7 linked regions of the Homo sapiens genome follow. The protein of the gene in region 6 purifies or fractionates together with the protein of the main gene of each other region. This does not show direct contact. Each region holds a gene or a part of one and is shown on either strand. Other genes may lie near its edges. The genes, in order: GALNT11, PRXL2A, LMBRD2, SLC30A9, TMEM39B, KLRD1 and KIAA1586.

Region 1 (4,462 bases), on a different chromosome or scaffold from region 6:
GTGGAGTCTAGTGCAAGATCTTAGACTCATCAGTGAGGCAGTAATTCCTCTATATCCAGTTGTACCCAACCCCTATACCCTGCTCTCTCAAATACCAGAGGAAGCAGAATGGTTCCCTGTTCTGGACCTCAAGGATGCCTTCTTCTGTATTCCCCTGCACTATGACTCCCATGACTCCCAGTTTCTCTTTGCCTTTGAGGATCCCACAGACCACACATCCCAACTTATATGGACCGTCTTGCCCCAAGGGTTTAGGGATAGCCCTCATCTGTTTGGTCAGGCACTGGCCCAAGATCTAGGCCACTTCTCAAGTCCAGGCACTCTGGTCCTTCAGTATGTGGATGATTTACTTTTGGCTACCAGTTCGGAAGCCTCATGCCAGCAGGCTACTCTAGATCTCTTGAATTTTCTAGCTAATCAAGGGTACAAGGCATCTAGGTCAAAGGCCCAGCTTTGCCTACAGCAGGTCAAATATCTAGGCCTAATCTTAGCCAGAGGGACCAGGACCCTTGGCAAGGAACGAATACAGCCTATACTGGCTTATCCTCACCCTAAGACTTTAAAACAGTTGTGGGGGTTCCTTCAAATCACCGCTTTTGCCAACTATGGATCCCCAGATAGAGCAAGATAGCCAGGCCCCTCTATACTCTAATCAAGGAGACCCAGAGGGCAAATACTCATCTAGTAGAATGGGAACCAGAGGCAGAAACAGCCTTCAAAACCTTAAAGCAGGCCCTAGTACAAGCTCCAGCTTTAAGCCTTCCCACAGGACAAAACTTCTCTTTATACATCACAGAGAGAGCAGGGATAGCTCTTGGAGTCCTTACTCAGACTCGTGTCTGACAACTGGTGGCACACCTAGGTAAGGAAATTGATGTAGTAGCAAAAGGCTGGCCTCACTGTTTAAGGGTAGTTGCAGCAGTACCCATCCTAGTGTCAGAGGCTATCAAAATAATACAAGGAAAGGATCTCACTGTCTGGACTACTCATGATGTAAATGGCATAGTAAGTGCCAAAGGGAGTTTATGGCTATCAGACAACCACCTACTTAGATACCAGGCACTACTCCTTGAGGGACCGGTGCTTCAAATACATACATGCGTGGCCCTCAACCCTGCCACTTTTCTCCCAGAGGATGGGGAACCAATCGAGCATGACTGCCAACAAATTATAGTCCAGACTTATGCTGCCTGAGATGACCTCTTATAAGTCCCCTTAGCTAATCCTGACCTTAATCTATATACCAACAGAAGTTCATTTGTGGAGAATGGGATACGAAGGGCAGGTTATGCCATAGTTAGTGACGTAACCGTACTTGAAAGTAAGCCTCCTCCCCCAAGGACCAGCACCCAGTCAGGAGAACTAGTGGCACTTACCTGAGCCTTAGAACTGGGAAAGGGAAAAAGAATAAATGTGTATACAGGTAGCAAGTATGCTTATCTAATCCTACATGCCTGTGCTGCAATATGGAAAGAAAGGGAGTTTCTAACCTCTGGGGGAACCCCCATTAAATACCACAAGGAAACCATGGAGTTATTGCATGCAGTGCAAAAACCCAAGGAGGTGGCAGTCTTACACTGCCAAAGCCATCAAAACGGGAAGGAGAGGGGAGAACAGCAGCATAAGTGGCTGGCAGAGGAAGGGAAAGACCAGCAGAAAGGAAAGAGAGAAAGAAACAGAAAATCAGAGAGAGACACAGAGAGAGGAAGTGAGAGACAAAGGAGTCAGAGAGAAAGAAAGAGACAAAGTCAAAGAGACAGAGACAAAGAGAGAGTCAGAGAGAGAGACATAGAAAGGCAAAGAGAGAGAGGAAGAGACAGACAAAGAGGGACTCAGAGAGACAAAGAAGTCATCAAAGAGAAAGAGAGATAGAAGTAGTAAAGAAAAAACAGTGTACCCTATTGTGGGCGGCAAGCCACCCAGGTGCCGAGGCAAGAGACTGAGGGCACGAGCTGTTCCAGTATAAAATATATAAAATAAGAAGTTATACTAAATATAGATCATAGAGATGATTATATATGAATATCATTAATCATTAGTTTGTAGCAATTACTCTTTATTCCAATATTATAATAATCTTCACTCTACAATCATAACCTAGGAAAAACCAGGCCATACAGGGATAGGAGCTGAGGGGACATAGTGAGAAGTGACCAGAAGACAAGAGTTGAGGCTTCTGTTATGCTCGGACAGGGCCACCAGAGGGCTCCTTGGTCTAGTGGTAACACCAGCGTCCCGTGATCTAGCGGTAGCATCAGTGTCAAGGAAAAACACCCGCTACTTAGCAGACCAGGAAAGGGAGTCTCCCTTTCCCCGTGGGAGTTTACAGAAGACTCTACTCCTCTACCTCTTGTCTTTTCTTTTATCTCTGTCTTGTGTCTTTATTTCTACACTCTCTCGTCTCCGCACACGGGGAAAAAACCCACCGACCCTGTGGGGCTGGACCCTACACCCTATTCCTTTAAAAGCCACAGTAAAGTTAAAACCTATAACTGATAATTGAAGGCCTTCTCTGTAACTCTGTAACACTCCAATACCACCTTGTTGTCAGTGTAAACAAGGGCGTAGCCCAAAAGCACTGAGGCCACTGACAACCCATAGCCTTCCTATCAAAAATCCTTAACCCAGCAGGTTTCCTAACAGGGGATCTAAATCTTAACTAACTACCATACAAAGGTCCGACCAGATCTAGGAGGAACTCCCTTCAGGACAGGACCATAGATGGTTCCTCCTGGGTGATTAAGGAAAAAAGACACAAGGGGTATTCAGTAAATGATAAGGGAACTGTAGAAGCAGAGTTAGGAAAACTGCCTAATAATTGGTTTGCTCAAATGTGCGAGCTGTTTGCACTCAGCCAAACCTTAAAGTACTTACAGAATCAGGAAGGAGCCATCTATATCAATTCTAAGTTAATATGGACTGAACGAGGTCTTATTAATAGCAAAGAATAATTGAAATCCCAAACTTACAAGGTTTTCAACAAAAGTAAAGTTTGCTAAAAGTTAACAGTGTAAACATATATTATTCTAACTTCTAATCTTGTGGAAATCAGACCCTATCAGTACCCCTCAAAGCTCAAGTCCGTCAGTGCAGAGCCATACAACTAATACCCCTACCTATAGGGTTAGAAATGGCCACTGCTACAGGAACTGGAATAGCCAGTTTACCTACTTCATTATCCTACTACCACACTCTCAAAGGATTTCTCAAGAGAGTTTGCAAGAAATAACAAAATCTATCCAGTAAGGATAGTAACTACAATTCCAAATAGACTCTTTGGCAGCAATGACTCTCCAAAACCACCGAGGCCTAGACCTCCTCACTGCTGAGAAAGGAGGACTCTGCACCTTCTTAGGGGAAGAGTGTTGTTTTTACACTAACCAGTCAGGGATAGTATGAGATGCCACCCAACATTTATAGGAAAAGGCTTCTGAAATCAGACGCCTTTCAAACTCTTACACCAACCTCTGGAGTTGGACAACATGGCTTCTCCCCTTTCTAGGTCCTGTGGCAGCCATCTTGCTATTACTTGCCTTCGGGCCCTGTATTTTTAACCTCCTTTTCAAATTTGTTTCCTCTAGAATTGAGACCATCAAGCTACAGATGGTCTTACAAATGGAACTCCAAATGAGCTCAACTAAACTTCTACCAGGACCCCTGGACCAACCTGCTGGCCCTTTCACTGGCCTAAAGAGTTCCCCTCTGGAGGACACTACAATTGCAGGGCCCCTTCTTCACCCCTATCCAGCAGGAAGTAGCTACAGCAGTCATTGGCCAAATTCCCAACAGCAGTTGGGGTGTCCTGTTTAGAGGGGGGGGATTGAGAGGTGAAGCTGGCTGTGCTTCTGGGTCGGGTGGGGACTTGGAGAACTACTCTGTCTAAAGGATTGTAAATGCACCAATCAGGGCTCTGTGTCTAGCTAAAGGTTTGTAAACACACCAATCAGTGCTCTGTGTCTAGCTAATCGGGTAGGGGACTTGGAGAACTTTTCAGTCTAGCTAAAGGATTGTAAATGCACCAATCAGTGCTCTGTGACTAGCTAACTGGGTAGCAGACTTGGAGAACTTTTCTGTCTAGCTAAAGGATTGTAAATGCACCAATCAGCGCTCTGTGTCTAGCTAAAGGTTTGTAAACGCACCAATCAGCACTCTGTAAAAACCGACCAATTAGCACTCTGTAAAACAGACCAATCAGCACTCTGTAAAACAGAGCAATCAGCACTCTAAAATGGACTAATCAGCTCTCTGTAAAATGGACCAATCAGCAGGATGTGGGTGGGGCCAAATAAGGGAATAAAAGCAGGCCACTGGAGCCAGCAGCGGCAACCTGCTCGGGTCCCCTTCCATGCTGTGGAAGCTTTGCTCTTTCATTCTTTGCAATAAATCTTGCTGCTGCTCACTCTTTGGGTCTGCACTAACTTTATGAGCTGTAACACTGACTGTGAAGGTCTGTGGCTTCACT
Region 2 (4,462 bases), on a different chromosome or scaffold from region 6:
AATGTATGGGCATGAGGCTATGGTGGTGCAGGAATAACAGCCAGTCTGGGTAGCCACAGAAGCACCCAGAAGGAAGTGGCTTTGGAGCCGGTGTAGGACACAGGAGGCAGCATGGACAGGCTAGGCTGGGATGGGGCCAGCTAAGCTGGGAGACAGCAGGCTGACTGGGGCAGGTGTCAGTGCTGAAGGAACCCTGAGAACTCAAACCTCTATGTTCCAAAGACCCCCATCTCCATACCTCAAGTTCAAGGGCTGGGTACAAGATCCAGACCTCAAAACCCCCATAAGTGCTGTCTTCTGACCTCCCACTGTGATCCTGAAAGTGTGAGCAGAGATTCAGCCCTCTGGGGCAGTGGACCCCATCCTCAGGCACTGCAGCACCATGCTGAGAGTGTTATCAGGACCAGTGGTGAGCATCAGGCCTCTCCATGGACAGACCGCACCCAGTGGGCCTCTAGCAGCCCACTCTTGTGCCAGAGAGAAGCACAGAAAATTCACTTCCAGGAATACCTGGAGAGCACACAGGCCTAGCCTCTTATCCAAGTCCCCTGGGCTACAAAGCAACTCCCATCCTGGCATGTCTTGAAGCACGTACTACTGTGACTTGCTGCACAGTGAGCAGACCCTGAATTCTGAAATCACAATTTTTCCTACACACAAAAAAGGACAATCAAAGGAATTTTAATTTCTAAACAGAAATGATGCATTTTCACATGGGTCTCTAAGATTGCAGAGGTATGGAGGCCAGCAATCCTTCGTACCTCTGCAGCCAGTCGTCTTAGAAGCTGTCAGTAATGGCCTAATTTCATTCACTCAACAGTCTTGTGATGCAAAGATTATCCTGTTTAGCAGCTAACACTGAGGTTCAGAGTTCAGTAACTTCCCTGTGTCACAGAGCCAGCAGGCAGCAGTACTACAACCTGGACCCAAGTCAACAGGAATAGGACTCCAAAGCCTGAAAGACTACCTTTCCTCGCCACACATTCAGAAGTGGGTTTACATCTGCTGTAATTGTTGATTAACAAAGAAAAGAAGAAAGAAGTCGGTCCTGGAGATCCAGGAGTATGATTCCCTCTGTCTTAAAGAGAATGTGTTTTTAATCACCTTGTTTTTTCAGTCATCGTGTACAGTCAAACCATGTTTACTCTAAAGGAAATTTACCATACACCAGATGTTCCTTCTCTTTCCTCCCCCTTTCTATCCCCCCTTCCATTAAGGAAAGGGTCAGTTTCTCTGAAACAGAATAGTAGGGTTGTTTACAGAAGAGCCAGCCCCCACCTGACACAGCTATAGCATTCAGTTCCCCACTGCTGGGCTTATCTGATCCACCCTCTCCCACAGAAGGTGAAGTAGGATAAAGCCACAAACAAACAACAGCTGTGGCAGCTCAGAGTGGCAGCTCTGGTCTGAACATGGGTGCAAGAGGACGAGACCCAGTCGGGCTCCCTAGGCTAAGCTGAATCAATTCCTCCCCAGGCCCCATTTTTCTCAACTCCATGAGGAAGTTCCTAATGATCCCCAGTGACATCCTATGAGTCTAACAAAAACAGGTCACTTTGGAGTCAGAACATTCTAGGCTCCTCAACACTGCCCCCACCGCCCCAAATTCAGTTTCCAGCTTCGAGACCCTGTCTCTTTCCTATACAAGGCAACTCCCTTCCTCAAACGGTCTCTTACCCCCAACCTCAGACGCTTCAAACTTGGGAACAAGGCACTCACCATACACAGCGTCCACACCTCTGCTTCTCTTGACAAAGAAGTATATCCAGGGGTGAGCAGACGGGCCTGGGCAGGCGGCAAGGGGAGGGCTGGAGGCGGGACTAGGTCCCTAGGCTCAGTCACTCCATAGGCAGGACCAGGCCACCCAGAAACCCTGGGGCTCCTTCAGCTGCCAACAGTCAGTCTCCAGAAAACATCTAAATGGAAAGCTGCCAAGGCCCCCTAGCCCTTCAAAAAGTTGAGCAAAGCTTTGAGTCATTTGCAGTCATGCAGATTATAACATTTCCCAAGTGCCACCAGACTCCTCTGCTATCCGGTGCAGACTAAAGAAGCAAAGCTCGTAACACAGCCCACATGTCATACTAGCGCAAATAAAAGAAGATGTCCTTTTCTCTGTGGCTCCTCGTGCAGCCTGCTCCCTTGCCCCATTCCTCACCCCAGGCCTGGAAAGTCAGCTGGCACCTCTGAGGCCCCTCATCTGCTGTCTATTCTTTACCTCCTTTTGCTTTCCCTTCCTTTTCTGCCACATCGGTGGCTTCCCTCAACCCACACTCCCTTCCTGGGTGACTTCCAGCACTTCTCCCACCACTTTGTTATTGACTTCCAAGTTCCTATTGCTGTTCTGACCCAAAGTTTCCACTTGGGGGTTTTGTAGGTGTCTTGGTTGTACCACATCCAAAACTAAAGTCGATTTCTCTGCTGGAGTTCCATGGCTCAGTAGATGGGGGGGCAGGGAGGGGGGACAGTGGGGGACAGGGGTTCACATTTTACTGTTCATTTGCCTTCACTGCCTACATCGACTCAGGAAGTTCTGTCCATCTTCTAAAATGTATCTGCTACCCATCCTCTTCTCGACCTCACTGCTGCTGCCCAAACCCAGGATCCTATAACTCTGTCCCTAGCCTATTTCAAGAACCACAGAATGAATCTGGCTTGGTTCTAGTCTGGTCCTCTATAGTTTATTTTCCAAGCCGTAGTCAGAGCGATCCCAGCACACCCCCACCTGATTACACCTTTCCCTTGTGTTCAGACTCTCACTAACAATAAACTCCTCAGCAAGCCAGCTGATGGGGCCCTCCACAGCTTGGCTTCAGCAAGTGTTGCTCATGTTGTTTCCTTTGCCCGGGATGCCCCCCTCTGACCCAGGCCAACCACGTAAATGCCTACTTATTCATAAGGCCCAGCACACATAACACTTCCTCTCCAAAGCCTTTCCTGAAAGCCCTGACAACTGACTGCTCACTGACCTCTTCTATAGCGTGCATGTGTGTGCGCACACACCCATAACCCTGCACAATGCACAAATGAATTGTGTAAATTTTAGTTATTTACATGTCTGTCTCCACAATATGTTGGCACAATGTGTTGTCGTCTTCATTCCTGCATCCCCAGCACTCAACACAGATCCTGGTAATTATCAGGCATTAAATGTTAATTAAATTATCTGAATTTTACTCTTAGAATTCCACAGTGAGGCAGACTTGGAACTTATAACTACTCAATTCCAATTTCAGTTCAGTATGAAAGGCAATTTTGGACAGGGCTGGCTTGATATTAAAGAAAACACTCTAGCTTGGGACTTAGGTAACCTTAGGCTGGGTCCTCGCTCTACTGCTCACTAGCAGGGCAATCTGACTTAAGGTATGAAGACACTCGGGGCCTGGATCTCATCATCTATACAGAGGAAGGAACTCAAAATTCTATGAGGTTGTCTTAGCTCTGACATCCAAAGACTCTAAAGTACCATGTGACTGCAACTACAGGGATCTGATGTCTAGAAAGCCATGGGAACCCCTGCCACCACTGTTCTTCTGCTGGGTGTGCACATTCACCCTGCCTCCTTTGCTGGGCCTAACTCCTGACTGTTCCAGGAGCTGCCTCTGGGCAGGAACTGATAAAGTCTTAATGAAACAAAGTATCAGCACTGGCTGAGTTAAATCATGTCTGAAACAAGTAGAGACAGCATCATATTCTAAACATCAAGGGTACACCTGCCCAGCCCAGCCCCACCCAGGGAATCGTCCCTCTTCAGAATGAGCTGGCCTGAGGCAGAGATAGGGGAGAAGCAAGAAAAGGTGCTGAGGGAGACAAAAAACTAAGAGTGCACATGGGCCTCCTTGCCTCAGGCCCTCAGTGAACAAGTCTTGAAAGGATGCTTCATCTTCCTTCTCTGGTCTCCTCTGTTTCCCTCTCCTTCCCTCAAAGCGCTGGTTCAGCTCATTTTACTGAGCAAATGAAGAAACTAAAGCTCAGAGAAGGAGCTGGCTAGTCCAAGGTCACATGGGCAGGGCAGGTTGTCAGTGGCTGCACTGGGACTCAGGTTTGGGTCTCCCAACTTCCAGTCCATGACTGTTTATCCTGCATCAGACACGCTAGGTCCTGGGCAGCCAGCCAAGGGCCAGTGGCCTCTAAGGCTGGAATAGCATGGCAGTCTGGGCTCAGGAAGTGGGGCCCTGCAGGTCTTGAAGCCTGTTCACTGGCCTCAGGCAAGCTAAGAGCAAGACTGCCCGTAAACAGGGCCTGGGAAATCTGCTGCCTGGAGAGAACATCATCAGCCTCTCCCAAGCCCAATCCTTGGTAAGCAGCTTATAATCTGAAGCCAAATGTCTTAAGGGTCTCATTGCCTAGTCTCCGCTGAGAAGCCATTCTGCACCTCTCTTCCCCACAATAACAAGACTCTGTCCATCCTTGTCTAGCATACTGATGATGCAGGCACACAGAGCCTTATGAGCAACAGATGCCC
Region 3 (4,462 bases), on a different chromosome or scaffold from region 6:
AGAAGACAAACATGGAACAGATTTTCCCTAGAACCCTCAGAAGGAACCAACCCTGCAGATACCTTAATCTTGAACGTTAGTCCCCAGAACTGTGAGCCAATATTTTCTATTGTTTAAGCCACCCAGTTTGTAGTAGTTTTGTTACAGCAGTCCTAGGAAGCTAATAAAGCTTCCCTGAAGAATTATCATTTATGTTAAGACTTGAAAATGAAATAGGAATTAGCTGAAGAGAGTGCTGAAAAGAGCATTCTAATAGTTTGGGAATAGCATGCTCAAAGATAGAAAAGAAAGACAATGTGTGTAATAATTAAGCATATGGTCATCAAGCCAGATCAATTCAGTCCACTACTTGTTCTCATACTAGAACACACCCACTCTCATTCATTTATTTACTGGCTATGGCTGCTTTCATCCTACAATGACAGAGTAGTTGCAATAGAAATGACATTGCACACAAAGCCTAAAATATTTACTATCTGGCCCTTTACAGAAAAGTTTGTCAGTCCCTGTTTAAGGCAAGACTGCCTGGCTCTTATCACTTCCTAGCCATGTAGACATGAGAAAGTTACTTAATCTCTCCGTGCCTCATATTCTTCATTTATAGAATGGGGATTTACAAAAATCTCTATCATAAAGTCATGAGAATTAAATATATGTATAGTGCTTAGAAAGTCCCTCTTAGGCAAATAGTAAGTCTATATAATTGTTTACTATAATTATCACCATTACTAAGTTTGAGGAACGAAAGTTGAGTGTTAGGTAAATATTAAGTCTATAGAATTGTTTATTATTTCATCAACATTAGCAAGTTTGAGAAACCAAAGATGACCAGTGCAAGAAAATAGAGGCTTGGGATACAGCTGGAGAGCTAAACATAGGCCAAATTATTTTTCTGTAGGCTGCATTAAAACATTTTGGAGTTTATTCTAACATGAATGAAAAGCCTTCAACAGGAGTTTTAATTTGGAGAGTATCATCAGCTGAGTAGCATATTTTCCCTGGGAAGCAAAAATGTGAGGTGACTACAATAATCTCTTTAAATCCATAACAAAATTTTTATTTAACACAGAAAAATTTTATAATTTGTTGTATATTTTTATGTACAGTATTGAAAGTTATACTTTCAACAACTTTGTGAAACTAGGTTAAGTCATCAAGTAAAATGAAGTGTCTTATTAAGATTACAGATAGGAAACAAAACTTACCAATACAAACTCCCATGCAAATTGTTCTTTAAAGAGGTTTCCAGAATTGGTGGGATTACCTTAGGTTAACCTTTCGGAAATAAGTGTCCTCTGGTCATTATTCTCAGTTCTACTATGTTAGGGTAACCATACAATTTATCATTTAATCTCGGAGACTTTTGAAAATTAAAGAGGGTACTATTAAAAGTTACCTCAAAATAATAGGCGTAGCCCTGCACTATTGAATATATTTTCCATGAATCTCTGTCAGACAGAAGATGGACAAGACACATCATGAGGCTGAACTGCTAAAAAGTCATCCTGGATGAGACATCCTGAAGGATTGCACAACACCAGTTTTGCAGTCTGAAGCCCATCAATGCACTAACAACAACAACAAACCAAAAATGACTAAAAGGGGATACATATGACTTAGTGACTATTGCTTATAAGGTTCAAACTTGCTTACCTCCATGGCATCTTCCAAATTCTCTTCTGCATCTGCTTTCTCTGTCATCAGTTTGGCTGCCTTAAAATACGTTTTCATAAGTAGATAACCCCTTTTTGCTCCATTCCAGTATGATCGAGGAATTTCCACCAAGCCATACCCCAACAACAACACAAGAAGAAACAGACCCCATGTATTTGCAGCAGCTATCCCAATTGTCTGAAGCTGGTTCCTAAGAAAGGGAAACAACAGATAATATGTATATTTTAATGGAAAGATAAAATGCGACTGCATAAATAGACTTTAACACAGGAGACACTGTTTCTACTGCAGTTAAAATTAGCATCTAGAATAATTCATGGCAATAATATGTATATATTTTCCCAAAGGAAACATTTTTCATTAGGTGATTTCTTATTCTATATTAAACAAAAGAAGTTTGAAAATGTTTCAAATTAACCTGTGTTGCTGACCTAGCAAATCTCAGGAATACAATAGTGAGACCTAGCACTGCTGATCTATTCCTAAATTTTCAGATGTAGACCTTCACATATATTACAAATCATAAGTATAAAACAGATTTCAATTTTATTGAAATATCTAAATCCAAGGTAACATTAAGAACAAATATGCCTTCAAATTATAATCAAAACAAAAAAAATCACAAGTTCCAATGAAAAATAAAACCAGTTATTTTATCATAAAAATTTTGAAATTCTATCCAAAAATCATAAGGGTTATTACTTTTAATATATAGCCATTAGACTAATCATTAATCTTTTGCCTAAAATCTATATTTAAAGATGTCATTCCATATTTTCTTAGTAATATGGATTATTCACATATTCTTTTGGGGAAATCCATAAAATATGTAACAATATATTTCTCAATGAAATGTCTTTTTACCTGCACATATGAAATTAAAAATGATTTTTTAAAAATGCAAACATACATTAAAGCAATGTTAAGAAGACTACTTTTCTTACCATTCTAAATGTAAATGTGGGTTTACAGCTACATAAATTAAAAATGCTCCAAAAATCAGCAAATAGGTGCCATAGTAGATTGCATTCTCAATTAGTGCAGTTTTGATCTTTCCAGTGATGGAAAACCCTCCTGATCTTGCATATGACTGCATAAAAGGTAAGAGAATCCTAGATGGATAGAAAAAATATGATTAAAAACCCAAATAATTGATATGTCTGTATAATCTCAAAGTGCCAGAAATATATGAATCTCAATTTTAATGAATAGGTCTTCTCATTAATAAATGTTTATAAGTAATCATGAATACTTAATAACTATAATAGATGACTGAGTATTTTTGTAATATAAAATTTTAGGGAAAGCAAATGGGTCTTTAAAGCCTTTATGAAGAGTCTGGACTACATTCAAAGAAAACATTTTTGATCAAATTTTAGTTTCCTAAGGCTTCACACGGAGAATGGATAAAAGGGGAACAAAATTGGAACTAGTTGGGAGGGGGAAGGGTGATGATGGTGGTAAGAAGCAAAAAGGGAGAAGGTCAGTTGACAGCATACTGACTTTGAAGTAGTACCTAGGAGACATCCAAGAGGAGCTGCACACAAACCCAGCTTCAGGGTTCAGGAGAGCGGACTAAAAATATGGATAGCTTCCGAAGTCATCACTGTATCAATGGCAGTGAAATAACATCAGTAGATACTCAACTGTAAGAATGAGTATGGAGAATGTGAAGGAAAGAACTGAGACAGAACTCTGAGAAATATCAACTTTTAAGAGAGGTAGAGAACAGAAGGAGGGTAGACCAGCAAAAGAGACTGAGACAGAACAATAGTGGGGCAAGGAAGAAAACCAAGGAGCATATGGATTAGGAACTAGGAGAGGAAAGTTAAAGTGGAGAGAGAGAATCAAATGCCGCCAAGAGGTGAAGTAAATTAAGAACCTGTATGTATAAGTGGAGGAGAATAGAAAGCAGAGTACTATGGTTAAGAAATAAGTAAACAATGAGCAAGTGGAGATATCAAATATAGAGAATTTATTTAAGAAGTTTGGCTGGGTAGGATAAACTATGGCATATACATATAATGGGGTATGTTACAGAAATGGAAAAGAACAGAATACTGATACATACAGCACAGCATAGATGAATTTCCCAAATATGTGAGCAAAGAGAGATGCAAAAAAGTTCACAATGTATAATTCTATGCTTATAAAGTTCATAAACAGGCAAAAACTAATCTATGGTGACGGAAGTCAGAATCATGGTTACTTCTGGGGAGTGCGGGATGACTACACAGGGAAGCGTGAGCGAGGCTTCTGGGGGCATTGCTAATGTTCTATAACATCATCTGAGTGCTGGTGTATGGGTGTATTCACTTTGAAAAAAGTCAAACTAAACACAATCTATGCATTTTTCGGTACGAACTTATGCTTCAATTTTAAAAAGTTTCTAAAAAAATTTAGTTGTGATCAGATCAACAAGGCAGAAGCTGGAAAGGAATCTGAATTGAGAGACTTTCATTTTTGTTTGTTTTCTTTTCAAAAGATGAGAGAAATGTGCATGCTTCGTTGAAATTGAAAGCTACAAGTATGTAACAAGAGCTGAAGGGGATGGATCCATATTTTAGGAAGAAGTGATGGCAGCAGCAGCTTGTCTGGAGTGGCCCCCAGCAAAGTTGCTGGCCGCAGTGTGGGGGGACTGGCGGGGACTGTGCACTCCATGGAGCTAGCAGGAGCTGGGAAGAGGTGGGAGCCCCACCCCCTTCCGAGTTGGCGGGGCAGGAGCCCTGCTCTGGGCATAGCTGCAGCTGCCCAGCTGTGGCTGTGGACCCAGGCATCCCTGCACTTT
Region 4 (4,462 bases), on a different chromosome or scaffold from region 6:
AAAATTTTTTATCCATATAAGGAAGCTATATTTTAATCAACCATCAAGGATGAAATAAGAATTAATGTTTTAATATTTATAGTTACATGTGCTCAAGTTAAAACAAAACTTTTTCAGATTGGCAAAAGGCTATATCATTTATTCTTTTTTTTTTCTCTCCTGGTAACTCACAGAACATATTTATTCATTTTCAAAAATCATTTCTACTTTAGTCTTCACAGAGTATAAACACATTTCATTATTTGGCTGGTATGTGAGTAGCAACTAATAAATATATTTAGATATACTTTTTCCTTATGTTCTTACATATAACTAACTACAGACAGAAAACTGTTTGGAGGGCTCCCATATGATCAATCCCTGCCACCTATACGCAAGCCCTTGTGTGATCTCCTCTCACTGAATGTGGGCTATAACTACCAAATATGGCAAAGTGATGAGATGTCATTTCCAAGACCAGGTGACTAACCTGTGACTTTTGTCTTGTTCACACTCGCTCTCTATTGCCTTATCAATTTGCACGCTTTGATTAAGCAAGCTGCCATGTTGAAGAGGCCCATTTGGCAAGGAGCTAAATCTTGCGAACAATCATGTGAGTAAGGTTAGAAGCAGCCCCTTCCCCAGGAGATGACTATAATCCCAGTCAACACCTTGATTACAGTCTATGAGAAACCCTGAAGTCGAAGACCCAGATAAGCTGTGCCCTGATTCCTGACTCACAGAAACTGTAAGATGGTAATATGTTGTTTAAACCACTAAGTTTTGGGCCAATTTGTCACACAGCAGTAGGTAACTAATATACTGTTTAAAAAAATTGTATGAATTTTCTGGATTACTAACGTATTTTTTCCAATAATTGAATCCACAGATATTCACTCTTCCACAAAATTTCGAATTTGCCAGTCTTTCAGTTTATAGCTCTTTTTTAGACATTACTTATTAAACAATATATACAAAATTATAAACATGTATGTAGCAACAACAGAGCACCAAAATATATGATGCCAAAACCAAGAAGAAATGAAGGGAGGAAGAGCTAATACAACAACAATAACTAGAGACTTCGATACTTTCAGTAACGGATACAGAGGCCGGGCACGGTGCTCACACCTAGCACTTTGGGAGACCGAGGCGGGTGGATCACCTGAGGTCAGGAGTTTGAGACCAGCCTGGCCAACATGGCCAGTGATGAAACCTCGTCTCTCAGGAGTTTGAGACCAGCCTGGCCAACATGGCCAGTGGTGAAACCTCGTCTCTACTAAAAATACAAAAATTAGCTGGTCATGGTGGTGAGCACCTGTAATCCCAGCTACTTGGGAGGGTAAGGCAGGAGAATCACTTGAATCTGGGAGGCGGAGGTTCCAGTGAGCCAAGATCGTGCCACTGCACTCCAGCCTGGGCAACAAGAACAAAACTCCATCTAAAAAAAAAAAAAAAAAAAGGATAGAACAATAGAGCAAGAAGATAATTAGGGAAATTGAAGTCACTATAAACCAATTAAACCTAACAAACATCTACAGAACACTCTACAACAACAGCAGAATATACATTCTTCTCAAGTGCACATGAATATTATCCAAGACTATATGTAAGGCCATAAAACAAACCTTGGTAAATTTAAAAGGACAGAACTAATATAAAACATATTCTTTGACCACAATAGAACAAAATAATAAATCAATAATGGAAAGAAATCTGTGCAACTCACAAATACGTAAAAATTAAGTGACATACTCCCCTAAATAACTGAAAAGAATAAAAAAAGAAATTAGAAAATACTATTAGATAATGAAAATGGCACAATATATGGAAATGTGTGGAATGCAGAGAAAGCAATACTTAAAGGAAAATTTGTAGCTGTAATTGTCTATTTTAAAAAAGAAGAAACATCAAATTAAAAGCTTAACCTTAAGACAGTGGAAAAAGAGCAAACTAAACTGAAAGCACGCAGAAGGAAAAAAATAATAAAGATTAAAGGAGAAAGTCATGAAAAAGAAAATAGAAAAACAACAGAGAAAGTCAATTAAACCAAAAGCTGGTTCTTTAGAAAGATCAAGAAAATGAACAAACCTTTAGCTACACTGACCAAGAAAAGGAGAGATTCAAATTACAGAAATGAAAGATGAGACATTTGTACCAACACTAAAGAAATAAAATGGATTACAAAGGAATATTATAAATAGCTGTATACCAACAAATTAGGTAAATTAGAAGTAAAAGACAAATTCCTAGAATACAAGCTACTTAAACTAAGTCAAGAAGAAACAGACAATCTGAACAGATCCATAACAAGAGATATAATTACTAATCAAAAAACTACCCACACAGCAAAGCTCATATCCAGATACTTGAATTCTACCATTTAAAGAAGCTAACACCAATTATTCACAAACTCTTCCAAAAAAATAGGAGAGAACATTTCCCAACTCATTCTCTGAAGCCAGTATTATCTTAATACCAAAACCAGACAAAAACATCACAAAGAAAGGATATTAATTTGGATTATCTCACATTATGTTAATAACTCTAATACTGACTTTCATAATGCTCAACTTCTAATCTTTTTTTTTTTTTTTTTGAGACAGGGTTTTGCTATGCTGCCCAGAATATAGTACAGTGAGTGGCTATTCACAGACATGATCATTGCACACTAGCCTCAAACTCGTGGCCTCAAGTGATCCTCCTGCCTCAGCTTCCCAAGTAGCTGGAACTATAGGCATGTGCCACTGTGCCCATCTCTCATTTTCTAATCTTGTTCCAATAAGATAGTTACTTTTCAAGATTAAACATATAGGGCATAGAATATAAATCTAGTAATCATTAATATATTTTACTAATTCAGATATACGGGTCATTTTAAAAAGATTTAACTTAAAGATTTCAAGTACAATACACAAAAAAATCTTATTTTAAAGTTTGAAAAAATATAGAGCGAGTTAGTAGAAAACTGGGTTTTTAAAGGTTTGTTCTTTTATTTCATTATAAAACCACAATGCTGCTAGAATTTCACTGAAAAGCACTATTAGAATTCTGTATCTCTTCTGCTGATTATCTCCTAAGTCTCCAGTTCTTTAGTTTTACATAATTTAAAAGATAAAGATTATAAGAAAAATACTTAAAATAAGCTAAAACAAAGTCTATTTTCAAAGTAAATATAAATTATATTTAATTTGGTAATCATTGCCCAATGAACAAAAATCTTTTTAAATTTAATATATTCAATTTGTAATTGCAATGCGAATATAAGGCAACTCTACAGGTTCCATATTAAGTATTTCCACTAAGAAGACAACTACTTTGCAAACTTCCATTCTCATTATATCAACTTGACTCTTCCTTACTCTAAAAATTAGAAGTATAGAAAATTTAAAAGGAAACTTAGAAGGAGTTTCCTAAGTGTATTCTTTCTTACTTCCAGGATTATAATTCTGAAAAGTTACAGACTAAAACGTTCTGAAGACGAGGAATCCAAAACTTCCTCTGGAAGTATTTACAAACCAGGCATTTCTGTTTTTTAATATGTTTTTGTAAGCCTTAACAGGATTACTGGAATAAGGCTGACCTTACTGATGGGTCATTCTCCAGGAGTTCAGTGAGCCGTTGTACTTGTTCTGGCTGGATGGACCGCCCTAAGAGTGCTTCTGTGTTAGTGTAGATGAGGAATGCTGAGACCATGCCTAATAAGGTGCCCACACCCAAAGAACCTAGGCTGTCATACAGTGGATTGCCTAAATGAAGCACATAAAAAAATCAGTAAATTAACAGTTTATATTATTTCAGTGAACTTTATAGAGAGCAAAGAACCAGAACGAGTAAATCAAGGCACTTGAAATTTATTCCTAATTTCTTTAATTACTTCCTTTAACAACTCCTAATAGTTTTAATATACCACAAAATGAGGATGCTACAACTTGCTTTCATAAGAGTACTATGTGACATAATTAAGATCTCTTACTTGTACCTGTCATTACATATGTGAAGTTTCTGAGCACATTTAGATTAGAGACACCAATACAAAAAAATGACATAATGAAGAGTCCATTTCTTTTAGATATATCCATAGCACTTTTCCTACACCAGATAGACAAAATAACAGTGGAATCAAAAGCTGAAAGAAACCTTTTTCCGTATCTTCTTCCTACTAATGTTCTGTAAGAGAATTAAGCCCTACAGAAAATAATATGGGTGACTCTCTTCTCATCCAACCAAGGATGATATATAGCTAGTATCATTCTAGATAAAAAGGAGAGAACTTAATTCATTACATGCCATAGGTGCCTCAAGGTGGTGCTTCTCAAAGTGTGGTTCCTGGACCAGCAGCCATCACTTGAAAACTTGGTAGAAAAGCAAATTCTCAGACCTCATTTCAGGCCCCTGAATAAAAAATTCTGGATGTGGGTTTCAGCATTCTGTGTTTCCCCAAGCCCTTCAGGTGATTCTGATTCTAATATTTGCCTTAGGT
Region 5 (4,174 bases), on a different chromosome or scaffold from region 6:
TGCTACATGTGTGCACTGTCTTCCTTTGGATTGGGGAAATACTGAAAATAGCTTTCTCTTGCAATGACATCACATTCCTGCCCTGCAGATCCTCCCACCCTCTCAGGCCCCAACCCTCCTTCCCCGGGGAGGAGACTCACATGGAAGCGGAAGTGGGAGACGTCAGAGGGGATAGCCACGTTGTAGTGGCCTACGGCTTTGTAGACGTTCTTGCTGTGCTTCACCAGCACGCCCTGCGGCCACATGCATTCTTCAGTCCACCTGGGGGCACAGTTCAATGGTGCCCCTTATCCCCAGCTCACCCACAAAAGGGATACCAGAAGAATGGGCAGGAGGGAATCACCAGGGCTCTACTCCCATTTCTATCACTTAGACACGCTGACTTTCCTTTTCTGGGTTTCAGTTGCCTCCTCTGTAAAATGGGGTAAGAATCATGAGGAATTCACTGTACTGTGAGTTAGGTGGTCTAGGGCTGACATTAATTACTAAGAGACTGTTGAGAGAACCCTTCTTCCTCTCTGGGTCCCTTTGCTTCATCTGGTCTCACCTCTTGCCTCCAAGTGGTCCACCACACAGTTGTCTGAGTGGTCTTTGTAAAATACTAAGCTCAGCCTGACCACCCTCTGCTTAAAACTCTTTGTGGGCTTTTTTTTTTGAGAATGAGTTTCGATCTTGTCGCCCAGACTGGAGTGCAGTGGCACAATCTTGGCTTACTGCAACCTCCGCCTCCCAGGTTCAAGCAATTCTCCTGCCTCAGCCTGAAGAGTAGCTGGGATTACAGGCATCTGCCACCATGCCCAGCTAATTTTTGTATTTTTAGTAGAGATGGAGTTTCACCATGTTGGCCAGGCTAGTCTCGAATTCTTGACGTCAGGTGATCTGTCCACCTCAGTCTCTCAAAGTGCTGGGATTACAGGCGTCAGCCACAGCGCCTGGTCCTGCTTAAAACCTTTTGAAGGCTTCCTAGTGCCCTTGGGGTCAAGGCCCCAAGGATTTGACATGGCCTCTGAGGTCTTGTGTGGCTTCCCACAACCCTCACCACACAGCTCATGCTGTTTCTCGTTCCTCCAGCACTCTGTACTGCTTCACGTCTCTCCCTAAGCTGCTCCCTCCAATTGGATTGCCCTTCCCAAAGCCTAATCCTTCTGGTAAGCTCTTCATCATCTTTCAAAACCCAGGTTCCTCCACAAAGCCTTTCTCAAACTCCCTAGAGTTTGACATCCTTTTATTTTTTTAAAAAAACTTTAAGTTCTAGGGTACATGTGTACAACATGCAGGTTTGTTACATATGTATACATGTGCCACATTGGTGTGCTGCACCCATTAACTCGTCATTTACATTAGGTATTTCTCTTAATGTTATCCCTCCCCCACCCCACCCCACCACAGGTCCTGGTGTATGATGTTCCCCACCTTGTGTCCAAGTGTTCTCATTGTTCAATTCCAACCTATGAGTGTTTTTTTTTTTTTGAGACAGAGTCTCACTCTGCCGCCCAGGCTGGAGTGCAGTGGCGCTCGGCTCACTGCAACCTCCACCTCCTGGGTTCAAGTGATTCTCCTGCCTCAGAACTATAGGCACCTGCCACCACGCCCGGCTAATTTTTCTGTATTTTTTGTAGAGACGGGGTTTCGCCATGTTGCCCAGGCTGGTCTCAAACTGCTGACCTCACGTGATCTGCCTGCCTTGGCCTCCCAAAGTGCTAGGATACAGGCAATGAGCCACCGTGCCTGGCCCATTTGGCATCCTTTAACTGTTCCCTGCATCTCCTGCTACTAGTCCACATTCCCCAATGCTGGTCATCTATTTATTTCCCATCTGTATACCTCACTAGGCTGAGAGCCCTTGAGCGGGAGGATCTAATCCATCCCTGTGTCCTCAGAGCATGCCGCAAGGCCTGGCACAGAGAGGCCCTAGTGAGCATGTGAATGAAATGCTAGGACCGGTGAGCTTTCTTTTTTTTTTTGAGACAGAGTCTCGCTCTTTCGCCTAGGCCAGACTGCAGTGGCGCTATCTCTATCTCGGCTCACTGCAAGCTCCGCCTCCTAGGTTCATGCCATTCTCCTGCTTCAGCCTCCTGAGTAGCTGGGACTACAGGCGCCCGCCACTGCGCCCAGCTAATTTTTTTGTATTTTTAGAAGAGACGGGGTTTCACCGTGTTAGCCAGGATGGCCTCGATCTCCTGACCTCGTGATCCGCCCGCCTTGGCCTCCCAAAGTGCTGGGATTACAGGCGTGAGCCACTGCACCTGGCCCAGTGAGCTTTCTTATAATGTCCTGTGAGATCTCCCAGGAATCCCAAGGGCCTGGACCAGAGGACTGCAAGTCACAGCCTGTAAGCAGCCCCCTTCTCAACCCAATGCTCTTGCCTTGCTGACTCACTCATTTAAAAAAAAAATAGTTGGCTGGGCACAGTGGCTCACACTTGTAATTCCAGCACTTTGGGGAGGCCGAGGGTGTGCAGATCACCTGAGGTCAGGAGTTCGAGACCAGCCTGGCCAACATGGTGAAACCCCGTCTCTACTAAAAATACAAAAAAAAATTAGCGGGGCATGGTGACACAGGCCTGTAATCCCAGCTACTCGGGAAGCTGAGGCAGGAGAATCGCTTGAACCCGGAAGGTGGAGGTTGCAGTGAGCCAAGATCGCAGCACTGCACTCCAACCTGGGCAACAAGAGCGAAACCCCGTCTCAAAAAACAAAAAAGAAAAGTTATTGTGCGACTCATAACATGAATGAACCTCACAAACAATATGCTGAATAAAAGAAGTTGGGGGCCGGGCACGGTGGCTCACGCCTGTAATCTCAGCACTTTGAGAGGCTGAGGCGGATGGATCATGAGGTCAGGAGATTGAGACCATGGTGAAACCCTGTCTCTACTAAAAATACAAAAAATTAGCCAGGTGCGGTGGCGGGCATCTGTAGTCCCAGCTACTCAGGAGGCTGACGCAGGAGAATGGTGTGAACCTGGGAGGCGGAGCTTGCAGTGAGCCGAGATCACACCACTGCACTCCAGCCTGGGCGACAGAGCGAGACTCCATCTCAAAAACAAACAAACAAAAAAAAGAAGTTGGGGCCGGGTGCAACAGCTCACGCCTATAATCCCAGTTCCACTTTGGGAGGCTGAGGCAGGCAGATCACGAGGTTGGGAGTTCGTGACCAGCCTGGCCAGCATGGTGAAACCCCATCTCTACTAAAAATACAAAAAATTAGTTGGGCATGGTGGCGCACGCCTGTAATCCCAGCTACTCGGGAGGCTGAGGCAGGAGAACTGCTTGAACCTGGGAGGCGGAAATTGCACTGAGCCAAGATCGCGCCACTGCACTCCAGCCTGGGTGACAGAGTGACACTCTGTAGCAAAAAAAAAAAAAAAGAAGAAGTTGGACACGATTTCATTTATATTAAGTTCTACAACAGGCAAAACTAACCTCTCGTGAAAGAAAACAGAAAGGTAGTTTGTCTTGGGGGAAGGATCACTGGGAAGGGCCATGAGGACATTTTCTGAAGGGCTGGAAATGTTCTATATCTTGAATGAGGGGTGGGTTACATGAGTATATATACCTTTATCAAAACTGAAAGAATTGTACCCTTTAAGATTTGTAGGCCAAGTGCAGTGGCTCATGCCTGTGATCCCAGCACTCTGGGAGGTCGAGGTGGGTGGATCGCTCGAGCCCATAAGCTCTAGACCAGCCTGGGCAACATGGCAAAACCTTGTCTCTACAAAAAAATACAAAAATTAGCTGGATGTGGTGGCATGCGCCTGTAATCCCAGCGACTTGGGAGCTGAGGTGGGAGGATCACCTGAGCCCAGGAGGTTGTGGCTGTAATGAGCTGTGATTGCACCACTGCACTCCAGCCTGGGAGACAGAGTGGGACCTTGTCTCAAAAAAAAAAAAGGATTGCACATTTCACTGTATGGAAATTTTACCTTAAAAAGAAAGGCCTAGGCCAAGTGTAGTGGCTCACTCCTGTAACCCCAGCACTTTGGGAGGCCAGGACGAGTGAATCACCTGAGGTCAGGAGTTTGAGACCAGCCTCGCTAACATGGTGAAACCCCATCTCTACTAAAAACGTAAAAATTAGCCGGGTGTGGTGGTGCACACCTGTAATCCCAGCTACTTGGGAGGCCCGAGGCAGGAGAATCGCTTGAATCCAGGAGGTGGAGATTGCAATGAGCC
Region 6 (4,462 bases):
AGCCTGAAACGAAAGATATGTTTCCTATATGAGTGCTCATAATTAAGTAACAAAAAATAAACCACAGGAAATGTTACAGTTAATCCTCATTACCTGCCTGAATTTGCTTATAACCTATACTTTTGCATCTCACTACTTTTCCTTTTCCAGAATATACTGCACAGATTTCTAAACCTTACTTATCCAGTGAAAGCCAGCTCAAAGTCCAATTTTCGTTTTTGGAGATGGAGTTTTGCTCTTGTCGTCCAGGCTGGAGTGCAGTGGCACGATCTTGGCTCACTGCCACATCAGCCTCCCTGGTTCAAGTGATTCTCCCACCTTCCTGCCTCAGCCTCCCAAGTAGCTGGGACTACAGGCGCCCGCCACCATGCCCAGCTAATTTTTGTGTTATTAGTAGAGTCAGGGTTTCGCCATGTTGGCCAGGCTGGTCTCGAACTCCTGACCTCAGGTCATCCACCTGCCTCGGCTTCCAAAGTGTTGGGATTATGCCGTACCCAGCAGAGCCACTGCGCCCGGCCTCAATTTTCTAAATATGTATTTTTCGGAATGCGCCCCAAGTTGTCTCACCATCATCTTGATTATATAGTGTTTATTTACAGTGCAACATCTTGGCCAGGCACAGTGGCTCACGTCTGTAATCCCAGCTCTTTGGGAGGCTGAGGTAGGCATATTACTTGAGGTCAGAAGTTCAAGACAGGCCAACCCCGTCTGTACTAAAAATACAAAAATTAGCCAGGCATGGCGGCACGCACCTGTAGTATCAGTTACTCAGGAGGCTGAGGCATGAGAATCACTTGAACCTGGGAGGCGGAGGTTGAAGGGAGCTGAGATGGTGCCACTGCACTCCAGCCTGGGCAACACAGCAAGACTCTGTCTCAAAAACAATTAAAAAATATAAAAATAATAGTGCAACATCTTCAGCACTACTTATATGGCAAAGATTTGAGTGCCTATGACGTGTCATGTTTTTATTACCGTGGGTAACAAACGTTGAAGACACTATTATTGATAAACTGTATAATTAAGCCTCAAGATAATTGGTTTATTTATATTCCCTTTTCAAAAATAAGATATCCAAACATATATCAAAATTCTCCAAATGTACCATATTCTTTTCTGACTCAGAAAGTATGCTAAAATGTTTTCCTCCTTTAAATCTTTTTCATCTAGTTAACTCCTATTTATGCTACAGTACTTAGTTTTGAGTCACTTCCTCAAAAAAAGGTTCTTGTAACTGCCCCTCATCTTACACTCTGCTACATGCTGTTTTAACATACTTAATTTTTTTGTACTTATCTAAATCATCACTAAATATCGTTAATAAATTATTGAAAATTATATAATTGTAATTCTATCTCTAGAATATAATCTCCATGAGGAAAAAGCATCATGTTCATGTCTAATTAGTTCACATTAGTAGCCCCTGAAGTGTGGTGTATACAGTAGATTCTGAATGTTAAAAGAATACACAGCAAATAATTTTTGAATAATTAAATAGCATTGAAAAAAATGTCTAGTCTCCAGTGTCATTAGTCATGCTTTATGTTTTCTGTCAGACTCTGACTGCTGTTCTTGCCAAGAAAAATGGGTTGGGTACCGGTGCAACTGTTACTTCATTTCCAGTGAACAGAAAACTTGGAACGAAAGTCGGCATCTCTGTGCTTCTCAGAAATCCAGCCTGCTTCAGCTTCAAAACACAGATGAACTGGCATGTGCTGAGTCTGATTTTCTACATTTTCTTTGATCTAGAAAAATATACTATCTAAACAAGTTAAATACTTTGGTTTAAGTCATTAATCACATAGTAAGTGGATGGTTATATTGGAATTGAGTTATCTGTTCTGTGTACCTTAAAGTAGTCATTGTAAAATCTTTATTAAATTCCTTAATGATTATATCATGGGAATACAAATCAAGATAGGTGCCAAATAAAGTGAAAGAAACTTTTCAGGAAGAATTCAAAGAAGATAATAGGTCATTATATTTACCCATTTTATTTGAAGAACCAACTAAATGACTGTGATTCTTAACTCTTTTAATTGAATTTATAATATCTTTTATAATTTTATAGTTTTTGTCATCTTTCTGGGATATAAGCTAGTATGGAAATATGGTAAGAAAACGTACCCAATTCTTTTCTTTTCTTTTTTTTTTTTTTTTTTTGAGACAGAGTTTTACTCTGTTGCCCAGGCTGGAGTGCACTGGTGCAATTTCAGCTCACTGCAGCCTCCACCTCCTGGGTTCAAGTGATTCTCCTGCCTCAGCCTCCTGAGTAGCTGGGATTACAGACACCTGCCACCAGGCCTGGCACTTTTTGTATTTTTAGTAGAGACAGGGTTTCACCGTATTGGCGAGGCTGGTCTTGAACTCCTGACCTCGGGTGATCTACCCTCCTTGGCCTCCCAAAGTGCTAGGATTACAGGCATGAGCCACCGTGCCTGGCCCTAATTACCCAATTCTTTTTTGTTTGTTTGTTTGTTTGTTTGTTTGAGATGGAGTCTCGCTCTGTCGCCCAGGCTGGAGTGCAGTGGCGTGATCTTGGCTCACTGCAAGCTCCTCCTCCCGGGTTCACGCCATTCTCCTGCCTCAGCCTCCCGAGTAGCTGGGACTACAGGCGCCCACAACCACGCCCAGTTAATTTTGTGTATTTTTAGTAGAGACGCGGTTTCACCGTGTTAGCCAGGATGGTCTCGATCTTCTGACCTCATGATCTGCCCACCTCTGCCTCCCAAAGTGCTGGGATTACAGGCGTGAGCCACCGTGCCCGGCCCCTAATTACCCAGTTCTTAAGAAAAAGTGCGGCCGGGCGCAGTGGCTGAAACCTGTAATCCCAGCACTTTGGGAGGCCGAGGAGGGCGGATCACAGTCAGGAGATCGAGACCATCCTGGCTAACACGGTGAAACCACGTCTCTACTAAAAATACAAAAAATTAGCCGGGCGTGGTGGCGGGCGCCTGTAGTCCCAGCTACTCGGGAGGCGGAGGCAGGAGAATGGCGTGAACCTGGGAGGCAGAGCTTGCAGTGAGCTGAGATCGTCCCACTGCACTCCAGCCTGGGCGACAGAGCAAGACTCCCTCTCAACAAAAAGAAAAAAGAAAAAGCGAAAAACTTCTCCTGCTGCACGTGGCACCTTTGCGGATTATAGGTTGAGTAGATTATACCCATGGGATTCCTCCTTCACAATACCATGATTTTGGAATCAAATTTAATCTTTGATCCCCCGTGAAGAAAGTGTTCCATGAAAACTCTATCTCCTTTTAGAAGGTTTTTAATTCTTCAGGAAGTGAGATTTTGTGGTATTTTTTCTCCATATATGAATGGGCCTGATAAATGAGAACTTTCAGTCTTGTGATTATACCTTTTAAATAGGAAGTTAAAAATAATTTCCGTTTGTGTGATGGACAGGCTGAATCTTATTCTAAACACTGACTTTCCCTCAAAATATGTTATTCCCAGAATAGATTAAAATTAGATTAATGTGATTGTCTTTTACTTGAAGCAGGATTTTATGAGCTCCAGTCAACAATTTTACTGGATTGGACTCTCTTACAGTGAGGAGCACACCGCCTGGTTGTGGGAGAATGGCTCTGCACTCTCCCAGTATCTGTAAGTTTCTGGCAATCATGGCGTTTTTTGCTCTTTATGAATTTGTCCTTAAATGTGACTAGTAAAGGTAACATCCAGGAGCACTGTGGCTGAAATAACCTTGTCTAGGGCATGAGAATACAGTAAAAGGAAAAAGTACAACAAAATAACAATTTTAGATCTAGGCAGATCTAAACCACTCTAAGTGTTAAAATCAAAACAGAAGATAATGCCTAATGAAAGGAGGTCGGGGTATAGGATAGTTGGTGCAAAAAAATACTGATAACCATTACATGCTTGCCTGTATTATTTTAAATTTTTTAATTAAAAATATATTATTTTGTAGTCACATGGACAACAAAACCAAAACATTACAAATCTCCAGAAAGTGCAATGCATAAGCTCTCTTAGTTCAAATTAAACATTTGAAAGGTATTATATTTCATCCTATATCTTTTGTCAGTTAACTGAAGTGCATTTTTCCTAAATCAATCTTCATACAAGAATGTGAAGAGGGCCAGGGATGGTGGCTTGAGCATCCAAGTTAATGCTCAAGTGACATGAAATTTAGTGTATTCGTGGCCATAAAAGAACTTTTAACATATGCTTTATTTTTGCCTTAGTACCAGCACTTGGAAGTATATGTGCATGTACAGATACTCATATACACAGAGGCAGTCCAAAAAAATAGTATATTTATTATTTTATTTATTCTGGTAGACCCCAATATTCTCAGCATGCTCTTATGTTTTATATACTATAGACTCATTGTCTGTATGTGTGTACTTTTTGAATCTCATTTTCATTTATAAACATGAGATTTGCAGCATCACACAGGGACAAAGTTTATGCTCTGGTTTGTTTTCCTAGACTAGAT
Region 7 (3,978 bases), on a different chromosome or scaffold from region 6:
ACAAATCCTGAATTTTACCATGGGCTTTAGAAACATCATGTTCCCTAATTTTTTTTCGTAGAGAAGCTTGCCTAGTAGTTTTATTACTGCCATTAGGGGTTACTAAATATGCAATCCATTCCTTGGACACATGGACATGCTTTTCTGCTTTCGATCCCAAATGCCGAACTGCTGAACAATCCTTACATCCTAATTTACCTTCTTTTATTTCAAGCCATTTGTATTGTTCTGTAAACATAAATGCTTGTTTTTCATTCCAACAATCTGGAAGCACAAGATTATCTATTTCTTTCTTTGATGAAAGTGATGGCTTTTCTTCAATGATTGGTTGTTCAATATACTCGAAATGTGGTTCCTTTGCCTTAGACAATCTGCAGTGATTTTTGCTCACTTCATTATTTTCTGTGTCTGTTTTCACCTTCTTCACATTTAAAAAATGCAAAAAATCACCCTGTCGTTTTGGCATTTTAGGAAACAGAATCTGAAAAATAATTTTACATATGTAAGTAAAATTCATAACACTTTAAGGGTCAATGTAAAAAGTTCTCTTAGTGATTATCTAATTTTGGAAATACATTTTAAACTTAAATATTTAACCTGATTTTCAGTTTATATCTATAATATCAATATGACTTGCTATTTCTTGAAAAACCCACTATTAGTTTTTAAAATTCTACAACCAACAACAGTTTCACAAAATTTGACTATGAATTATCATCCAATTAGCAAAATGGTTGGTCATATGTTTCGCAAATGAGTATGCTATTTGCACCTCCCCATACCAAAATCCTCCCATGCTCAAGTCCCTTGTATAAAATGAAGTATTTGCACTCAACCTTTGCATATCCTCCTCTATACTTGAGGTCATTTCTAGATTATTTTTAATACCTAATATAATATCAATGCCATAAAAGTTTTTATAATGTATTACTTTTTAATGTGTTTATTATTGTATTTTTATTATTTAAAAAAATATTTTCCATCTACAGTTGGGTGAATCCACGGATGTGGAACCCACAGTATATGAAGGGCTGACTGTAGTAGCAACATGAAGGGTGGATAATATTTTCAATTACATTAATGAATAAGATGAAAGTGAAACAATAAAGACATATATTAGAGTTTCGCTCATTCATCAATGACATCAACATCTTTCCGAACTAATGAAGAGTTTAAAAAAAAATTTTTTTTTTGAGACGGAGTCTCGCTCTGTCACCCAAGCTGGAGTGCAGTGGCGCGATCTCAGCTCACCGTAAACTCCACCTCCCGGGTTCAAGCAATTCTCATGTCTCCGCCTCCCAAGTAGCTGAAATTACAGGCACGTGCCACGACACCTGGCTAATTAGTTGGGACTATAGGCATGCACCACCACGCCCGGCTAGTTTTTGTATCTTTGGTAGAGATGAGGTTTCACTATACTGGGCAGGCTGGTCTCGAACTCCTGACCTCAAGTGATCTGCCAGCCTTGGCCTCCCAAAGTGCTGGGATTACAGGTGTGAGCCACCATGCCTGGCCGAGTTTTGGAATATTGCAAAGCAACTTCCTCAATTTTTTTGTATTGCATTTAGTCTAGCAGAGACACATCACACTTTGAAATTTAATCTGCATTAACATTCTATCCTTCACTTTCTTAAGTTTAATCAACAAATAATAAATCAAATTCTAGTTTGTATTTTACTGATTACAATGGGGTAATGTTCTATCAATACTGCAGCAGGACACTATTATGTATTAATAGTATTTCTACCAATAGATGCAAATAACCTCAAGTGCACAGATAGTAGGAAATGATGTATTAAGTAGGAAATGATGTATTAAATATGATCATTTATGTACTTGTGCATTTATATACTTTAATTTGTAATAACTGTTATGTTTACAATCAGCTCACAAAATTCCTGAAAGTTTAACGATTAGATTTTTTTTTTTTTTTTTGAGAAGGAGTCTTGCTCTGTTGCCCAGGGTAGAGCACAATGGCATGATCTCGGCTCACTGCAACCTTCACCTCCCAGGTTCAAGTGATTCTCCTGCCTCAGCCTCCCAAGTAGCTGGGATTACAGGCATGTGCCACCAAGCCCGGCTAATTTTTTGTATTTTTAGTAGAGATGGGGGTTTCACCTTGCTGGCCAGGCTGGTCTCGAACTCCTGGCCTCAAGTGATCCAACCGCCTCGGCCTCCCAAAGTGCTGGGATTACAAGCGAGAGCCACCGTGCCTGGCCAACAATTAGTTCTTATGATCCAGTTCAAGCTACCACCAACACACTATTGCACTTAATAAGAAAACTGAACAAACACAAATATAATGTGCTTACATCACTATAATAGGCGCTAGGGTTTTCATCATCACCACAGACCAGATCGATGTATTCAAGAACAGGTCTCGATGGTCCTTCCTAAAAAGGAAGTGGGCAAATTTACAAGTCATGAACAATCATTCCAATTAAACTTAAATTTAACAATCAGTGGGAGATTTTTTTAGTTGGAATTGGGAAAGATTCTCGAGAAAATCTTGCAAGTGGCACAGAATAATTAGAAACAAAACGGGCAAAGGGGCTGGGAGCAGTGGCTCACACCTGTAATCCTAGCACACTGGGAGGCCAAGACAGGAGGATCACTTGAGCCCAGAAGTTCAAGATCAGCCTGGGCAACATAGTGAGACACCAACTCTACAAAAAAAAAAAATCAGATGGGTACGGTGGCTCACACCTGTAATCCCAGCTACTTGGGAGGCTGAGGTGAGAGGATCACTGGAGCCCAGGAAGTTGGGGCTACAGTGAGCTATAATTATGCCATTACACTCTAGCCTAGATAAAATTTAGAGCAAGACACTGTCTAAAAAAAAAAAAGAGGCATGGGAAAAGAGTCAGAGTACATGAATACGTAATACTGTTCCTGCTAGTAAAAAGGAAAAAAAAAAAAACATAATAATGACAAAACCCAAAGAGCCTAAATCTATATAGAGGAATAAAGCCATGTAGATTCCTTTCAAAATGGGAAATAGCACAGATATTGATTTAAAAAGATACAGATTTCAGTTAGGCACAGTGCCAGTCTCAGCTGCTCAGGAGGCTGAGGCAGGAGGATCACTTGAGCCCAGGAATTCAAGTCCAGCCTGGGCAACATAGTGAAAAACCCACCCCCTGGCCCTACCTCATTAAAAAAAAAAGATAACAGATTTCATAGTACAATTTTTTTTAACTGAAATGATTATCAGTAATCTCGAAGTTCTTTGATAACCCTGCTTTATCCTCCACATCACTGTACAGCCAAACATCAAACTCTGAGTCTTCTTGATCCTTTCTTTACATATACACTACCCTCATCATAGACCAGGCCATAAATGCCCTAGTCAAAATCCTAGATTTTATTCTGTAGGCAAAGGAATCAATAAATAACATCAAGATGGGAACATTATTAGAGCTGTTTCAAGAAGGTTAACCACATAAGAGAGCATGTGGGAAGAATACAAACAAGATAATCAATCTAGACAAATGGTAATGTGGTACAAAAATAGTGATGGCAAGGAGGAAGTAACCTTCCCTGTATAGGTACTATATTTCAATAAAATTTACATTAAGATAAGGACTCTTTTTGTATCCCCAAATCTTTTATCATTCCTTTCTTTCAGCATATTGTTTATTTTGGAGGCTAGGTACATGACAGAACACAAAGAGGATTCTGTGCCACAACGCAGAATGAAGGCTAGATAATCAACATTTATATGAAAAGACTAAGGAATCCAAACCAGAATATATCAAGAAGTAACAAACTTTTTTTTCTTTTAATCTGAAGAACCCACAAGCAGAGAACTATACCCAGCAGCATTGCATCTTTACTGGATGGTACTATAAAAAACACAGAGAAATAAGCATATCCTGGTAGAGCCCAGTATAGGATGGGGTTACAAAGGAAAGTTGTCTCTGAGTGTATTTCAAAGTGGAATTAAGTTATCATTGTCTTTTATGTGGCACCACTGAA

The links.
Region 1: the proteins of KLRD1 (region 6) and GALNT11 purify together in Homo sapiens (affinity purification with mass spectrometry; one large-scale study listed by BioGRID and IntAct). This does not show direct contact.
Region 2: the proteins of KLRD1 (region 6) and PRXL2A purify together in Homo sapiens (affinity purification with mass spectrometry; one large-scale study listed by BioGRID and IntAct). This does not show direct contact.
Region 3: the proteins of KLRD1 (region 6) and LMBRD2 purify together in Homo sapiens (affinity purification with mass spectrometry; one large-scale study listed by BioGRID and IntAct). This does not show direct contact.
Region 4: the proteins of KLRD1 (region 6) and SLC30A9 purify together in Homo sapiens (affinity purification with mass spectrometry; one large-scale study listed by BioGRID and IntAct). This does not show direct contact.
Region 5: the proteins of KLRD1 (region 6) and TMEM39B purify together in Homo sapiens (affinity purification with mass spectrometry; one large-scale study listed by BioGRID and IntAct). This does not show direct contact.
Region 7: the proteins of KLRD1 (region 6) and KIAA1586 purify together in Homo sapiens (affinity purification with mass spectrometry; one large-scale study listed by BioGRID and IntAct). This does not show direct contact.

The regions. Positions count from the first base shown.
Region 1 is NC_000007.14:152,028,036-152,032,497, reverse strand, and holds part of GALNT11 (polypeptide N-acetylgalactosaminyltransferase 11), read right to left. Parts: intron 1-4,462. UniProt on the Homo sapiens protein: Polypeptide N-acetylgalactosaminyltransferase that catalyzes the initiation of protein O-linked glycosylation and is involved in left/right asymmetry by mediating O-glycosylation of NOTCH1.
Region 2 is NC_000010.11:80,411,134-80,415,595, reverse strand, and holds part of PRXL2A (peroxiredoxin-like 2A isoform 1 precursor), read right to left. Parts: intron 1,764-4,462; exon of another isoform or gene 1,723-1,763; coding exon of another isoform or gene 1,720-1,722; intron 1-1,719. UniProt on the Homo sapiens protein: Involved in redox regulation of the cell. Acts as an antioxidant. Inhibits TNFSF11-induced NFKB1 and JUN activation and osteoclast differentiation. May affect bone resorption and help to maintain bone mass.
Region 3 is NC_000005.10:36,134,656-36,139,117, forward strand, and holds part of LMBRD2 (G-protein coupled receptor-associated protein LMBRD2), read right to left. Parts: intron 2,787-4,462; coding exon 2,619-2,786; intron 1,865-2,618; coding exon 1,654-1,864; intron 1,569-1,653; exon of another isoform or gene 1,481-1,568; coding exon of another isoform or gene 1,397-1,480; intron 1-1,396. UniProt on the Homo sapiens protein: Recruited to ligand-activated beta-2 adrenergic receptor/ADRB2, it negatively regulates the adrenergic receptor signaling pathway. May also regulate other G-protein coupled receptors including type-1 angiotensin II receptor/AGTR1.
Region 4 is NC_000004.12:42,069,792-42,074,253, reverse strand, and holds part of SLC30A9 (proton-coupled zinc antiporter SLC30A9, mitochondrial), read right to left. Parts: intron 3,729-4,462; coding exon 3,563-3,728; intron 1-3,562. UniProt on the Homo sapiens protein: Mitochondrial proton-coupled zinc ion antiporter mediating the export of zinc from the mitochondria and involved in zinc homeostasis, zinc mobilization as well as mitochondrial morphology and health.
Region 5 is NC_000001.11:32,096,529-32,100,702, reverse strand, and holds part of TMEM39B (transmembrane protein 39B), read right to left. Parts: intron 413-4,174; exon of another isoform or gene 262-412; coding exon 141-261; intron 1-140. UniProt on the Homo sapiens protein: May protect the cells against DNA damage caused by exposure to the cold-warming stress and facilitates tissue damage repair during the recovery phase.
Region 6 is NC_000012.12:10,309,908-10,314,369, forward strand, and holds part of KLRD1 (natural killer cells antigen CD94), read left to right. Parts: intron 1-1,556; coding exon 1,557-1,708; exon of another isoform or gene 1,709-1,712; intron 1,713-3,499; coding exon of another isoform or gene 3,500-3,502; coding exon 3,503-3,606; intron 3,607-4,462. UniProt on the Homo sapiens protein: Immune receptor involved in self-nonself discrimination.
Region 7 is NC_000006.12:57,049,189-57,053,166, reverse strand, and holds part of KIAA1586 (E3 SUMO-protein ligase KIAA1586), read right to left. Parts: intron 2,394-3,978; coding exon 2,313-2,393; intron 482-2,312; coding exon 1-481.